Linked DNA regions of Homo sapiens: region 2 is linked to region 1. A link means that fine-mapping ties the variant in region 1 to the expression of a gene that starts in the linked region. Tissue or cell type: whole blood. Region 1 holds a variant in brackets; the other region holds the start of a gene. All regions are shown on one strand. Distances are between the middles of the regions.

Region 1 (6,456 bases):
GTTGGGATTACAGGCGTGAGCCACTGCGCCTGGCCACTTATTTGTAGTTCTAACTAGCATTGCCAGATTTAGCAAATAAAACCACAAGGCATCCAGTTAAGTTTGGAGTTACATAAACAATAAATAATTTTTAAATATAAGTATGTATGTCCCATATTCAACTTAACTGGTCATCCTGTATTTTATCTGGCAACCCTGTCTTTAACCCAACCATGTGAAAAAATCAAATTGACCACTCAACATCAGGCAGTTAAAAACAATGACGAAGTGGGCGTTTTTAATTGGAAGAATAGACAAACAAGAAAATGTGTAGGGCTGGGGCCAAGAGTTGTTTAAGTGAGTTTAGGGCTGGTGGAGCCTGGGCCAAGGAGACTCTGGTGATCTGGGCTGGCAGGTCTGGGGCTGAGGTAGTAGCTTACAAGGTCAGGACAACTAGGTTCAGAGCCAAATAAATGGTTCTCATGGTCAGGAATGGCAGGGTCATGGCAAAGCCTGCAGCTCAAGGTCAGGGTCAGTAAGAATGGGGCCAAGGAGATGGCCCATGTGGTCAGGAGATTGAGCAAATAAGAAAATATATTGAGAATAGTGAGAGCCAGGTTTCTTACTCTTGGAGACAATAAGTATGAAAAGGGGAAAGACTAGAACAAACCCTGTAATTAGAGTCAGAGGTGTGAGCCTATAGGGTGTGTGTGTGTGTGAATATTATATATGATATACAAAGAGAGACAGAAGAGTAGATGTGTGTGTTTATGATATGTATAGTGGCTTTTTGGTTTTTCAAAACACACTAATTTGTAGCATTTGCTGATTTCCACGGTGTAAATACTCCCAGCATGAAATAATACTAGTTTCACAGCCACCCGCAAAGTTCCTGAATATTTAACAAGCAGCTTTTGCAAGTCCATATGAGCCAACTCCACTACAGTACTTCGGAATGTACATCATACGTATGATTGTGTGTGTGTGTGTCCAGACATATTTTTCCTAGTTGATATCTTGTTTCCTTGTCCTACTGAAAGGACTTGCAAGACCGACACACCCATAGCAATGAGTGCACCTAGCATCTACATCTTGACTTCCAAGTATCATTCTTCACTAAAAAGAAACCAAAAGTTCTTAGAGAAATGGCTGATTTCATGACTAGGGCAGTGAAAAATCTTACTGGTTCAGGAAGAAAGGAAGTATTCAAAGAATGAGGATGTAGTAAGCTAAGTAATGGCCCCTGAAGCTCTAATCTCTGGAATCTGTAAATATTATCATATACAGAAAAAGGATCTTTAGAGATATGATCAAGGAACTTGAGATGGGGAGATTGTCTTGGATTATTCAAGTGGACTTTAAATGCAAACACAAGTATCCTTGTAAGAGAGAGGCAGAGAGAGATTACGCAAAAGGAGAAGGCAGGAGGCAGAGACTGGAGTGGTGCAGCCACAAGCCAAGTGCCAGCTGGAAGCTGGGAGAGGCAAGGAACGAATTCTCCCCTAGAGCCCAGAGGAAGCATGGCCGTGTTAATATTCCTGATTTGGGCCCAGTGAAGTTGATTTTGAATGTCTGGACTTCAGAACCATGAGAACTGCAGCTGTTTTAAGCCACCGAGTTTGTGGTACACTGTTACAGCAGGCATAGCAAACTAATACAGATGAGAAATGTCAAAAGAACACAGGAGCCAGTGTAAAGAGGCTCCCACTGGCCAAATCAGGGACAATCTAGTCATCAAAGTAAATTATGATTGTAAGGAATTATAACTTATTGAATAAATTGGGAATCCTTAAGCCCACACTAATATAAATAAAAAATTAATTAAAAAGGATACAGGAGACCAGGTCCAGTGGCTCATGCCTGTAATCACAGCACTTTGGGAGGCTGAGGCAGGCAGATCACTTAAGGTCAGGAGTTTGAGACCAGCCTGGCCAGCATGGTGAAATCCCATTTCTACTAAAATTACAAAAATTAGCTGGGTGTGGCAGCGTGCACCTGTAGTCGCAGCTACTCAGGAGACTGAGGCATGAGAATCTTTTGAATCTGGATGGCGGAGGTTGTAGTGAGCCAAGATCTCGCCACTACACTGCAGCCTGGGCAACAGAGCAAGACTTGGTCTCAAAAAAAAAAAAAAAAAAAAAAGAGGATACGGGAAAGGAAATGATACTTTACTATAGAATTCAAGTAATAAATGTAGAAGAAACAATGGACATAGGAAAATCTCTATTTGGTGGCCATTATAGTAATAATCCAGGCAAGAATCATTAATGGATGCTAAAACTACTAGGTGTAAATTCGTGTATATTTATGTGTGTGTGTGTGTGTGTGTGTGTGTGTGTGTGTGTGTGTATATATATATGGAAAGAGAGAGAGAGAAATAAAGAGATAAGGAGGCAAATATGATAAAATGCCTCTGGTGGAGATTCTTCAGGATTCTCTGTACTAATCTTGCAAATCTTTTCTAAGTGTGAAATTATTCAAAACCATTTTTTAATTGTGGCAAAATATACATAAAATAAAATTTACCAACCTGTCCGTTTTTAAGCATATAGTTCAATAGTGTTAAGTACATCTGCATTGTTGTGCAACCAATCTCCAAAACTCTTATCTTGCAATCTAAAACTCTATACCCATTAAACAACTCCCCATTTCCCTTCTCCCCAGCCCCTAACAACCACTATTCAACTTTCTGTCTATAAATTTGACTACTAAGTACCTGATATAGGTGGAATCATACAGTATTTGTCTTTTTGTGACTGGCTTAGCGTAATGTTGTCAAGGTGCTACATCCATGGTATAGCATATGTCAGGATTTCCTTCCTTTTTAAGGTGGAATAATATTCCATTGTATGGATATATCCTATTTTGCTTATCCATTCATCTGTTGATGGACATTTGGGTTGCTTCCATGTTTCAGCTATTGTGAATAATGCTGCTCTGAACATGGGTGTACAAATAACTCTTCAAGA[C/T]CTTGCCTTCAATTCTTTTGGATATATACCCAGAAGTATCAGTGCTGGATCATATGAAAATTTTATGTTTAATTTTTTGAGGAACTGCCATACTGTTTTCCATAGCAGCTGCACCATTTTTCTCTCTTTTCTTTTCTTTTCTTTCTTTTTTTTTTTTTTTTTTTTTGAGACAGAGTTTTGCTCTTGTTGCCCAGGCTGGAGTACAATGGCGTGATGCTGGCTCACTGCAACCTCCGCCTCCCGGGTTCAAGTGATTCTCCTGCCTCAGCCTCCCGAGTAGCTGGGATTACAGGCACCCGCCACCACGACCAGCTAATTTTTGTATTTTTAGTAGAGATGGGGTTTCACCATGTTGACCAGGCTGGTTTCAAACTCCTGACCTCAGGTGATCCACCCGCCTTGGCCTCCCAAAGTGCCGGAATTACAGGTGTGAGCCACCGCGCCCAGCCAACAGCTGCACCATTTTTCATTCCCATCAACAGTACACAAGGATTCTGATTTCTCCACATCCTCACCAAAACTTGTTATTTTCTTCATATTTTTGATAGTGGCCATCCTAATGCGTATGAGATTGTAGCTCGTTGTTTTGATTTGCGTTTCCCTAATGATTAGTGATGTCAAACATCTTTGCATGTGCTTTTTGGCCATGTGCATATCTTCTTTGGAGAAATAACTATTCAAGCTCTTTGCCCTTTTTGTTTTTTTTGTTTTTTTTTTTTGCGACGGAGTCTTGCTCTGTTGCCCAGGCTGGAGTGCAGTGGTGTGATCTCAGCTCACTGCAACCTCCACCTCCCAGTTCAAGCAATTCTCCTGCCTCAGCCTCCCATGTAGCTGGGATTACAGGTGCACGTCACCATGCCTGGTTAATTTTTTTGCATTTTTAGTAGAGACAAAGTTTCACTGTGCTAGCCAGGATGGTCTCGATCTCCTGACCTCATGATCCTCCTGCCTCAACCTCCCAAAGTGCTGGAATTACAGGCGTGAGCCACTGTGCCCAGCTTATTTGCCCAATTTTTAATTGGGTTGTTTGTTTTGCTGTGAGAACTCTCTGTATATTCTGGATATTAACCCCTTATCAGATATAGGAGTGCAATTATTTTCTCTCATTCTGTGGGTTGCCTTTTTACCCTGATTGTGTCCTTTAGAGCATTGTTTGTTTGTTTTTTGAGACAGTTTCACTCTTGTTGCCCGGGCTGGAGTGCAATGGCACGATCTCAGCTCACTGCAACCTCCGCCTCCCAGGCTCAAGCGATTCTCCCATCTCAGCCTCCTGAGTAACTGGGATTACAGGCGCCCACCACCACACCTGGCTAAATTTTGTATTTTTAGCAGAGACAGGGTTTCTCTATGTTGGTCAGGCTGGTCTTGAACTCCCAACCTCAGGTGATCCGCCCGCCTCGGCCTCCCAAATTGCTGGGATTACAGGCGTGAGCCACAGCGCCCAGCCTAGAGCATAGTTTTATCTATTTTCACTTTTGTTGCCTGTGCTTTTGGTGTCATATTCAAGAAATCACTGCTAAATCCAACGTTATGAACAATCGTTATAAACAACGTTATGTTTTCTTTTAAAAGTTTTATAGTTTTAGCTCTTATTTGAGGTCTTTGATCTAATTATTTTAGGTCTTCGAATTAATTACTGTATATGGTATAAGGTAGGGTTTTAACTTTATTCATTTATATGTGGATATCCAGTTTTCCCAAAACTATTTCTTGAAAAGACTGTCCTTTCCCAGTTGAATATACCTGGCACCCTTGCCAAAAGTCATTTGATCATATATAGGAGGGTTTATTTCTGGGCTCTATTTCTACTCCATTGGTCTATATGTCTGTCTTTATGCCAAGAGCACACTGTTTTAGTGACTCTGGCTTCATTAAAAGTTTCAAAATCAGAAAATGTAAAACCTACAACTTTGTTTTTCTTTTTAAAGATTGTTTTGACCATTCAGGGTCTCTTGAAATTTCACATAAATTTTAGGATGGATATTTCTATAAAACAAAAACTTTTAAAAATGCTTTTCTATAGAAGGAGATGGCACCATTACCTATTCTTATAATTCAGGGTGTTCTTAAAATAGTCATGACTGGCCACAGACATGAAATTAGGGGCACTTTTGAGATATGCCTTAATAGTACTGGAATCCTGTCCAGAGAAAGTTGAAAAGCCCAAGACAACGTTTTATGAGATTTTTTCCTTCCCTGTTTGTGCCAATTAGAGCAGGCTCAGCAGCTTTCTGGTCCACCTCCCCCAAGGCTATTACGTCGGAAAAGAGGGCTCATCTCTCATGGGTTTATTTGTTCCACAGGCCTTTTGGGGGTCATAAAGAGTTTAGTGAGTTTTGATAGGATTGCTTTATCTTATTCAAAGATAAAGATAAAATTTAACAAGTACTGCATAGTCACAACATCTTTTATGGCCATGTATCATTCAACAGAATAAAATGATCTTTGATTCATTTGCTCAATGTACTTGAAATCAAATCATTCAATATGACTCTTCTCTTTCTAAGATTAGAAAAATAATAATGTATATTTTTAAAATACATGTACACAGATGCTGGCTCTGTACTTACTAGGTAAGGCTGTTAAACTCTTTGTGTCTCAGATCTTTAAAATTGAAAACTAGTAGAAACTACATCATGGGGTTCCCTGAGGATCAAATGTGTTAATATATGCAAAATGTCTAGAACAATGTTATGTAAATATCAGCCATTATTATTCTCTTATTAGGTGTTGTGAGGATTAACGTAAATGAGATTACCCTTGTGAAGCTTGTGGTACAGTGCCTGGTACATAGAAAGTGCTAAATAAATATTGGCTATCATTATAAACAGATATTTCTGTGATTTATTATGAAGCCCACACCTTCATTAGGTACATCTTACCTTTCTTTACAACTTGGATACATGGGGAATTTGTTATCACAATAAGCATGGATTGAGTCTTCCTCTGTCATCCAGGCTGGAGTGCAGTGGTGTCATCATAGTTCATTGCAGCATCGAACTCTTGGGCTCAAATGATTCTCCCACCTCAGCCTCCTGGGTGGCTGGGACTACAGGTGCACACCACCGTGCCTGGCAAGCAACTCATTTTTCAGGCCCTGTGGTTGCGTTGTCCAATATGGTAACCTGTGGCCACATATAGCAATATGTCTGTCTTTATGCCAGTATCACGGTTTTAGTGAAATATGAGTAATACAAATTGAAATATGGCTAATACAAACTGAGAAGAGCTGGCCGGGCATGGTGGCTCACGCCTGTAATCCCCGCACTTTGGGAGGCCGAGGCGGGTGGATCACCTGAGGGGAGTTCGAGACCAGCCTGGCCAACATGGTGAAACCCCGTCTCCACTAAAAATACAAAAATTAGCTGGGCATGGTGGTGCACGCCTGTAATCCCAGCTACTCAGGAGGCTGAGGCAGGAGAATCACTTGAACCCAGAAGGTGGAGGCTGCAGTGAGCCGAGACCACACCACTGCACTGCAGCCTGGGTGGCAGAGTGAAACTCTGTC
Region 2 (4,240 bases), 41 kb after region 1:
TTTTCTTAAAACAAAACTGTATACTGTACTGTATAATGCTTTATGATTCTGCATTTTTTTTTCTTTGAGACAGAGTTTCACTCTTGTTGCCCAGGCTGGAGTGCAGTAGCTCAATCTTGGCTCACTGCACCCTCTGCCTCCTGGGTTCAAGTGATTCTCCTGTCTCAGCCTCCTGAGTAGCTGGGATTACAGGCACCCACCACCATGCCCGGCTAATTTTTTGTATTTTTAGTAGAGATGGGGTTTCATCATGTTGGCCAGGCTGGTCTCAAACTCCCAACCTCAGGTGATCCACCTGCCTCAGCCTCCCAAAGTGCGCCCAGTGGATTCTGCATTTTAATCGACTTTTCAACTAACAACTTACCTCTAGTCCCAATGGCATGGAATAGAAGAGATTACAGACCGTGGGTTTGTAATCGACTTTTCTTTTACAACATATTAAGGGCATTTTTCATGTCACTTTATGTAAATTTACCTCATTTTTCTTTTTTGAGAGAGACAGGGTCTCACTGTTGCCCAGGGCAACAGCGAGATCATAGCTCAGTGCAATGGCGAGATCATAGCTCAATGCAGCCTTGAACTCCTGGGCTCAAGTGATCCTCCCACCTTAGCCTCCCCAGTAGCTAGGATTACAGGCACATACCACCACCCCTGGCTAATTAAAAAAAAATTTTTTTTTTGTAGAGATGGGGTCTTGCTATGCTGCCTGGGCTGTACTCTCTTTTTATTTATTTTTTATTCTTATTTTTTGAGACAGAGTTTTGCTCTTGTTGCCCAGGCTGGAGTACAATGGTATGATCTCAGCTTACCGCAACCTCTGCCTCCCGGGTTCAAGAGATTCTCCTGCCTCAGCCTCCTGAGTAGCTGGGATTACAAGTATGCGCCACCACACCCGGCTAATTTTGTAATTTTAGTAGAGACGGGATTTCTCCATGTTGGTCAGGCTGGTCTCGAACTCGCTACCTTAGATGATCTGCCCACCTCAGCCTCCCAAAGTGCTGGGATTACAGGAGTGAGCCACCGCGCCCGGCCCTATACTCATTTTTTATAAAACTGGCCTCATATTATTCCATTGTATAGTGGATACACTCTAATTTCTTTATAAATTATTTAAACTATTTTTTGATGTTTTGTTGAAAAAAAACTTGAGCAGGGAACTGATATTATGAAGGTGGATTGAGGGATGAATGTGGCAATAGAGCATAAAATGAATTAAAGAGGAGAGAATGGAAAAGGAAATGGTTGATGAGAGACCCTTGAAATAATCCAGCTGAGATTAGGCCAGTTAGTGGCCATGGGTTTCCCCCTCACTCTTATGCATCCAACATATGCTTTCGTCCGTCTTGAAGTCCCGACATTTCTAGAAAACACAGTTGTCTTTCTCCTCTCTACCTTAGCTCATCTCAGTCCTTCTGAATTTCATCTTTGCTTGTTGAAATCCTACCTCTCCTTCAATATCCAGAACAAACCCCACACCCTGCCATGATTGGTCCTGGCTGGAAACCGTCCCTCCTTCTTTCTTCCTTCCTCTGTGCATGTTTCTTGCAAAGGCAGTACAGGGCAGTGGTGAAGAGCAACGACTTTGGAACCACCAATTTGCTATCTCTGTGACCTTGGGCACCTTACTCAGTGCCAATTCGCAGTGCCTCAGTGTCCTCACCTGTCAGGGGGAGAAGTGCATACAGCATTGTTATGAAGAGTGAATTAGTTAAAGGTTGTAAGAATAGTGCCTGATAGCATCTGATCAGCACTGAATATATGTTAGCAATTATTTTGATTCACCGCAGAGGGCGGTCTACGAGAGCGCAGAGCCCCACTCGGCCAGCGGGGTCTGGCGGGGGACCTGTCGCGCTGAAAGCTCCAGGGTAGGGCCGACGCCCATCAGGCTGGGCATCCGTTCGGGATGCGCAGGTTGCGATCTGCAACCGGCGGCGCCACGCCCAGGCGGGCGGAGCGCGGTTCCCGGAGTCTCGCGCCCGCGGTCATGTGACACAGCGAAGATGGCGTCGCCCGGCTGCCTGTGGCTCTTGGCTGTGGCTCTCCTGCCATGGACCTGCGCTTCTCGGGCGCTGCAGCATCTGGACCCGCCGGCGCCGCTGCCGTTGGTGATCTGGCATGGGATGGGTGAGTGAGTGAGAAATTTAAAAGGGTTTGGCGATTCTCTCTCTTCCTAGCCTGGGTTCGCATCTGCAAAATGCGGGTGTAGAGGGCGAGGACGTGGTCCCACAGCACGCGGCTGCCTCGACATTTTAGGATTTGAAGGATCTGCATTGGAAAGAGAGAAGGGGAAGGAGCCGTCCCCTTCACTGGAAAGAGAGAAGGGGAAGGAAAGAGAGAGCCGCGCACGGCGTTGAAGTTTTACATGCTGTCCTTGATTAATCCTTACAGTAGTGGCGTCAGGATGCAGCATCTCTCACTTGGTCAGGCTAGGTGAGCTGCGGCTGGCTATATGACTGGCGCATCTACCCTTTTATTTATTCCTTCACACATTGAACAGAGATTTGTTAGGCACCTACAGTTCATTTACAAATTGAGTAACCCTTATCTGAAATGCTTGGGACTGGGAAGCATTTCGGATTTTTTTTTTTTTAATATTTGCATATATACAAGAGATCTGGGGGGTGGGACCCAAGTGTAAACAGGAAATTTATTTATTTTTCATATACACCTTATACACATAGCTGGAAGGTAATTTTATGCAATATTTTAAATAATTTTGTGCAACCCATCACATGAGGTCAGGTGTGGAATTTTCCACTTGTGGCATCATGTCTGCGCTGAAAAACTTTCAGATTTTGGGTTTCCCATTTTCAGATTAGGATGCTCAACCTATATTCATTTAACACAGTTATTGAGCACCTACTAGGTGCTGAGGATACAGTAGGGAACTAAACAGACTAAATTCTTTGTTCTTTTGGAACCTACTCTCCAGTAGGAGAAGCAGATTATAAAGAAATTAACAAGTAAAACATAACATATCAAATGGTGATATGTGCAACAGAGAAAAATATAGTAGGGTGTAGGATAAAAACTGGAGGTGGGGGCTTGCACTTTTAATAAAGCAAAGTTGGGAAAGAATTCATTGAAAAAGTGACATCTGAGTACAAAACTGAGGTAGATGAGGACAGTTGCCATTTGGCTGTCTGGTAGAAGGAACAGTAAATGGGAAAGCCCTGATGTGGAAGTATGTCTGGTGTGTTCAAGGGACAGCATTCAGATCAGCGTGGCTGGAAATGAGTAAGCAAGGGGAAGAAGTTAGGAGTTTAGTTTGGAAGGGAGGGGCAGGTACAGAAGTTATTGGGCCTAGTAAGACTAATGCAGGGACTTTGGCTAGAGTGTCATGGGGAACTTTTTGAGCAGATGAGTGACATGATCTGACACATTTTTAAAGAATCACTTTAGTTGCTGTATTAAGAATAGATCGTAGGGCGTCATGGATGGTCACAGGGAGACAGGTTAGGAAACTATTGCAATAATTTAAACAAGAGATGATGACTTGGAACTGTAGAGTAACAGTAGAGGTGTTGAGAAGTGGTCAAAGTTTGGATAGATTTTGAAGGTGGATTGCTAACAGATCAGACTTGGAATAAGAGAGAAAGAAAGGAGCCAAAGATGACTCCACAGGTTTTGGCCTGAACAATTGGAAGGGTGAAGTTTTCATTTTACCAAGATGGGGAAGCCTGTAGGACAAGCTGACTTAGGGTGGGGGAAAGATCAAGAGTCTGCTTTTGGGCTTACTAAACTTGAGATCCTCATGAGACACCCAGGAGATGTTGTAGAGGCATTTGGAGTGTGGAGTCTAGGACAGAGATACGGGTTGGAGATTTAAGTAGGGAGTCTTCGGCATACAGCTAGTAGTTAAAGGCTAGGTGAGACCACCTAGGAAATGAGCGTACACAGAGGACTAAGCCCTGAGGCACTCCATTCCATTTGGAGGTGGAGGAAATGAGGAGAAACTAGCAAAGGAGGCTGTAACCAAATAGCCGGTGAAGTGGAGGGGTCAGGAAAGCGCAGTGTCCTTGAAGCCAAGTGAAGAAAATGTTTCAGGAAGAAGGGCATGATCAACTGCATCAAATGTTGATAGGTCATGATCAACTGTATCAAATGTTAATGGGTCAAGGAAGATAAAGGCTGACAACTGATTATTGGATTTAGCAATATAAAGATGATTAATCTTGACAAAAGCAGTTTTGGGAGAGTCGTGATAGTGAGATCTTTATTGGGATGGGTTACAGAAAAA

What was found. PIP is the estimated chance that this variant, and not a neighbour inherited with it, causes the effect.
Region 2: PPT1 starts here. The variant in region 1 is fine-mapped to the expression of PPT1 in whole blood (TOPMed, PIP above 0.99).

The regions. Positions count from the first base shown.
Region 1 is chr1:40,135,245-40,141,700 of GRCh38, reverse strand. No RefSeq gene overlaps it. Among named protein-coding and RNA genes, the nearest start is that of RLF, 23 kb to the left of the region's middle. The variant C/T (reference allele first, on the strand shown) is at 2,949.
Region 2 is chr1:40,094,999-40,099,238 of GRCh38, reverse strand. It overlaps PPT1 (palmitoyl-protein thioesterase 1), which reads left to right and starts at 1,987. Exons shown (of 9, transcript NM_000310.4): 1 at 1,987-2,124. The coding sequence starts at 2,001. RefSeq lists an enhancer at 2,123-2,252.